2 separate regions of the Homo sapiens genome follow, and region 1 is linked to region 2. The links come from fine-mapping of genetic effects on gene expression. Tissue or cell type: T cells. Region 2 holds a variant in brackets; the other region holds the start of a gene. All regions are shown on one strand. Distances are between the middles of the regions.

Region 1 (2,699 bases), 36 kb before region 2:
ACTAAAAATAAAAAAAATCAGCCGGGCGTGGTGGCGGGCGCCTGTGGTCCCAGCTACTCGGGAGGCTGAGGCAGGAGAATGGCGTGAACCCGGGAGGCGGAGCTTGCAGTGAGCAGAGATCACGCCACTGCACCCCAGCCTGGGCAACATAGCGAGACTCCGTCTGAAAACAAACAAACAACAACAACAAAAATTCATGCTCATAATCCCACTTTCAAACCAGTGACCTCAAAGATTTCTAGCAGCAATCCTATTCCATTCTTCCAATTACAGAAAGCAAAGAGAAACTGGATCTGGGGATCTAAGCGTTGAGCCTGCTGAGCAGAACGGCCATTCATTTGGGGTGAGGTGCTGACTCACTGCCCCTCTACATTGCATTTTGGGGTGTGGGGATTTCCAGAGCAGGATTCTCCAGAGAGGAGTATCCAAGCTCCCTCCTCCCGCAGCAGGGGGATGCTGGGCTAACTGCCTGGTTCGGTCCCCCGTGAGTGGTCTGCTGTGTTTTGGTTCTGTTTGTTTGTGTGTGTTTTGCCTATGACTTTGCGAAATATTCCAAGACAAGAGCCAGAAAGTCTTGGTCTCTGAAGACAAGCACAATGTTGCTTTCAGCTTAAATATCTACTGGGAAACCTCAAGATTTTTAATGTCATCATTATGAAAAACAGAGATTATAAAAGGAAACCGTCGCATTTCACTCGCTGGCCCCCAGTGGGATTGGATCTGACCTCAGTGTATCTTTTCTTTGGTAGGTTTTAAGTCTTGACAAAATGTGCCTAAGAATGAAGACTCCAAAAAGGATGCAGTAGATTCGGGGGGAGTGGGGGTTGGAAAGAGGCTTAAATCTTCACATGACACCTGGAATATGGTCAAAATGTACCTGCTCAAGTTGAACCAGGTATTGCGTCCTCCTTTTACCCCATCGCTAGTGAAGACAACCACCGCCTGGGGAGACGCTCCTTTTCCGAAACACTCGAGTCCCGCCGCGTCCCGGACGCTCCGCTTTCCCCGCGCCCGGATCCTCCCGGGAACCCGCGCCCCGCCCGCGCGCTGGTCCCGCCCCCGCCGCCTCCCCGCGCGCAGCCGCCCGAACACGCCCAGACCGAGCGCTTGAGGTGCCGCAGCCGCCGCCGCCGCCGCCGCCGCGATGTGACCTTCAGGGCCGCCAGGACGGGATGACCGGAGCCTCCGCCCCGCGGCGCCCGCGGCTCGCCTCGGCCTCCCGGGCGCTCTGACCGCGCGTCCCCGGCCCGCCATGGCCCCTTCGCTCTCGCCCGGGCCCGCCGCCCTGCGCCGCGCGCCGCAGCTGCTGCTGCTGCTGCTGGCCGCGGAGTGCGCGCTTGGTGAGTCCCGCGGGCCCGAGACCCCGTCCCCGGGCGGCGGGAGGAGGCTCCGGGCGCGGCTTGACGCGTCCCCCTCTCTCCCTCCGGGCAGCCGCGCTGTTGCCGGCGCGCGAGGCCACGCAGTTCCTGCGGCCCAGGCAGCGCCGCGCCTTTCAGGTCTTCGAGGAGGCCAAGCAGGGCCACCTGGAGAGGGAGTGCGTGGAGGAGCTGTGCAGCCGCGAGGAGGCGCGGGAGGTGTTCGAGAACGACCCCGAGACGGTGAGCAGCCGGCGGGCGGGATGCGGGGGAACCCCTGGCGCCCGCGCGCCTCCAACCGCTCCCGAGAGGCAGCGCTGCTGCCGCCCCCCAGCTCCGCGCGGCGAGGCCTGGCCTCAGGGTCCCAGGAGCCCCGGCCCGCCCCGCGTCCCCCACGCCCATCCCCCGGCGACCCCGGGATCCCCGCGCAGGCCGGTGAGACGCTGCGGGGCTGTCCGGGAAACGCTCGCTGTCAGACGCCTCCCCGCGGGGAAGCCGGGAGTCCGTTTCCAAAGTGCGAGAGAAACACAATGGTTAAAACCCAAACCGCTTCCCCGCGGCCCTCCCTCTGCTGGGCTGGAGGTGAGGAACCCCCGGGCCGCGCCTCGTCCTCCTGAGAGGGGTGGAGAGCAGTCCCCTCCCGAAAGAGGAATTGAAAGGGCCGAGGGCGGGAACTGCTTGCGGCAGCAGGTCCAAAAATAAGATTCCAGGAATCGAGCGGGGCCGCATGCGGGAGGGGAGGGCGGCTCCGCGGCCCCGTTCTGCCAGGTGCTCTCCTGGAGGCAGCGGGTGCTTTCAGGAGCCCGACGGTGCTGGCCCCGGCACCTCGGTTAGGAATGTCCTTGGAGAAGGCGGGGCGCCCGGGGCCGCCTCCCGCAGGAGCCGCCGTGTGAGGACGGCCTGGCCACTCTATCCTGCGGGCTCGGGAGCGGGTGACTTTGGAAAGTCCGAGAAGGTGTGGATTCCCGTTGACGTCCCTCCCGCCCTGAAGTCAGGGTGATTTCATAGCGAAGTTTTCCGTTCTGCTGGAATGTTCCTTTTAAAGAATTCTCCTGGGGTGGAATAAATGTCACCCGGGATGAAAGAGTGGTTCTGGATGAACCATGGAGGCCTGTTTCCGCTTACATTTCTAGTGGTTGACTTGACCCCTCTTAGATCTGCCTTTCTGAAAGCTCTGAGGCTGTCAGATGGCCACTGTGCACTTGTGGACATAGCTCATCCCTGCAGAGATGACGCACCTGGGGCTGTTGCCCGGGGGCTGCCCACAGCCCCACAGGCCCGTGCCCTCCTTCAGCTCAGCCTAGCTTGGTCGCTCTCCCCGGCCTCTCTGTTTTCCTGTTTCTT
Region 2 (2,614 bases):
GATCAGGTGGTCTCCCTGAGGTCGGGACCCTCTTGGCCCAGGTGAGGATCAGGTGGCCTCCCTGAGATCGGGACCCTCTTGGCCCAGGTGAGGATCATGTGGTCTGCCTGAGATTGAGACCCTCTTGGCCCAGGTGAGGATCAGGTGGTCTCCCTGAGATCGGGACCCTCTTGGCTCAGGGGAGGATCAGGTGGTCTCCCTGAGGTCGGGACCCTCTTGGCTCAGGGGAGGATCAGGTGGTCTCCCTGAGATCGGGACCCTCTTGGCTCAGGGGAGGATCAGGTGGTCTCCCTGAGGTTGGGACCCTCTTGGCCCAGGTGAGGATCAGGTGGCCTCCCCGAGGTCGGGACCCTCTTGGCTCAGGAGAGGATGAGTGTGGTTTTTCTCAGTTGGGAGCCCCTTCAGAACGTGCACTCCCATCTTTTCTCATGGCGCTGCCTCTCTTCAGATCTCTGTTGAGGAGCTGGCGCGGAATCTGGTCATCAAGGTCAACAGGGATGCTGTCATGAAAATCGCGGTGGCCGGGGACTTGTTCCAACCGGAGCGAGGACTGTATCATCTGAACCTGACCGTGGGAGGTATTCCCTTCCATGAGAAGGACCTCGTGCAGCCTGTGAGTACTGTACCTGTCCCTGTGTAGACGCGCCGTGTGCTGGGATCCCGGGAACGGTGTCAGGAAGCCTCAGTCACACCCTGCCCTGTGTTTACCATTAACCAGGTGTGAGGAGGACCTAGAGGAAGGAAAGGTTTCCTAGAGTTTGACAAAGTCGCCGTACAGCTATGTCATTAATTTTACCATCTCTTTTTATGAGACCTAAGTTTTCATCTGAATTGATAATAAAGTTGTCTATTTTTCAATGGAGATAAGACACAATTAAATTATTATTATTTTTTTTGAGACGGAGTCTTGCTCTGTTGCCCAGGCTGGAGTGCAGTGGCGCGATCTCGGCTCACTGCAAGCTCCGCCTCCCGGGTTCACGCCATTCTCCTGCCTCAGCCTCCCAGGCAGCTGGGACTACAGGCGCCCGCCACCACGTCCGGCTAATTTTTTTGTATTTTTAGTAGAGACGGGGTTTCGCCGTGGTCTCGATCTTCTGACCTCGTGAACTGCCCACCTCGGCCTCCCAAAGTGCTGGGATTACAGGCGTGAGCCACCGCGCCCGGCCGAAATTATTCTTTAACAGAACAGTAAACTTTTTTGGACAATTTCCAAGAACATTTTGGGTTTTGTAACTCTGCCGTGAGTCTCATAAGGGGAAAACAGCCATGATGGGCGGTCAGTGTGGGCCATTGCTCCAGGTCCCGCCTTCTCTCC[C/G]CTTCAGCACAGCACACGCCCGTGCCCCCGACCTGTGTCTCCAGCCCCCACGTGCTGACGTCTAAGCCGTCATCCTGGGTATTTTCACTTCCACACCAGGCAGGAGAAAGGCACGCATGTCTTCGCGTCTTTGGGTGCTGAGTGTCGGCAGTGCCTGTGCTGAAGCCACCCCTTCAGTGTTGTGAGGGGCACCTGCTCCCCAGGCCCACAGACTGCCTGGTGCCGGGACCTTCGGTGTTGTGAGGGGCACCTGCTTCCCAGGCCCACAGACAGCCTGGTGCCGGGACTTTGCCTGGCTGGACCCTCCTCGTTTCACAGATAAGGGGGTTGCCCTGATTTGCCCACAGCCATATTGAATATTGAATAATTCACATGAGTGTTGGATGGTTGAACAATCCATACTCTTTGACCTTAGACCCACATGGCCTTTTCAGTCCTTTCCTAGCTTTAAAATGAACCTTTAGTTCTTGAGCATACACCAGTGGAAATAGGTATTCTGCAGTGAGGCGTTGTGTAAAGTGAAGAAACCTTCTGTGAAATGGCCACCACCGATGGGACTGGCCCGTTTCTGCCGTAGAGCTGCACATACCAGGGCCGCGAAGGCGCCACCCACCGACTGGGGCATCCGGCATGGGGCTTCTCGCTCCCAGGAAGCCACGGAGATTTCTCTGCCTTTCCAGATAAACCCTCGTCTGGATGGCTGCATGAGGAGCTGGAACTGGCTGAACGGAGAAGACACCACCATCCAGGAAACGGTGAAAGTGAACACGAGGATGCAGTGCTTCTCGGTGACGGAGAGAGGCTCTTTCTACCCCGGGAGCGGCTTCGCCTTCTACAGCCTGGACTACAGTAAGTCTTGGCTCTTACCGTTGGGGTGGCTGTGGCTGCACCTTCAGACAGGCATACGCTGAAAGCAAGCAGACGGCCTCAGATGGCAGCGTCAGGACAAGCTGAGGCTCCTCCGGTTCCGGGGCAGGGATGGGTGGGCGGGGTGGGCGGAGGTGCGGGCAGAGGCCCACCTCTCAGGATGGCCATGCAGGTCACTCAGTTCAGAGTCAGCCAGTGAAGAAGAAATGAGAGAGATGTGCCGAGAAGGTGCCTGCGAAGCCAGTGCCAGGAGGCCGGGGAGAGAAGGTGCCTGCGAGGCCGGCGCCAGGAGGCGGGGGAGAGAAGGTGCCTGCGAGGCCGGCGCCAGGAGGCCGGGGAGAGAAGGTGCCTGCGAGGCCGGCGCCGGGAGGCCGGGGAGAGAAGGTGCCTGCGAGGCCAGCGCCGGGAGGCCGGGGAGAGAAGGTGCCTGCG

What was found. PIP is the estimated chance that this variant, and not a neighbour inherited with it, causes the effect.
Region 1: GAS6 starts here. The variant in region 2 is fine-mapped to the expression of GAS6 in T cells (TOPMed, PIP above 0.99).

Annotation. Positions count from the first base shown.
Region 1 is chr13:113,862,474-113,865,172 of GRCh38, reverse strand. GAS6 (growth arrest specific 6) reads left to right here and starts at 1,097. Exons shown (of 15, transcript NM_000820.4): 1 at 1,097-1,340; 2 at 1,432-1,598. The coding sequence starts at 1,253. It overlaps GAS6-DT (GAS6 divergent transcript), which reads right to left and starts at 996. Exons shown (of 2, transcript NR_044993.1): 1 at 878-996; 2 at 1-163. RefSeq lists silencers at 1,404-1,463, 1,484-1,543, 2,024-2,073 and an enhancer at 1,092-1,683.
Region 2 is chr13:113,826,546-113,829,159 of GRCh38, reverse strand. It overlaps GAS6 (growth arrest specific 6), which reads left to right. Exons shown (of 15, transcript NM_000820.4): 11 at 449-613; 12 at 1,996-2,164. All of the region lies in intron 1 of GAS6-AS1 (GAS6 antisense RNA 1), which reads right to left. Among named protein-coding and RNA genes, the nearest start is that of GAS6-AS1, 12 kb to the right of the region's middle. The variant C/G (reference allele first, on the strand shown) is at 1,316.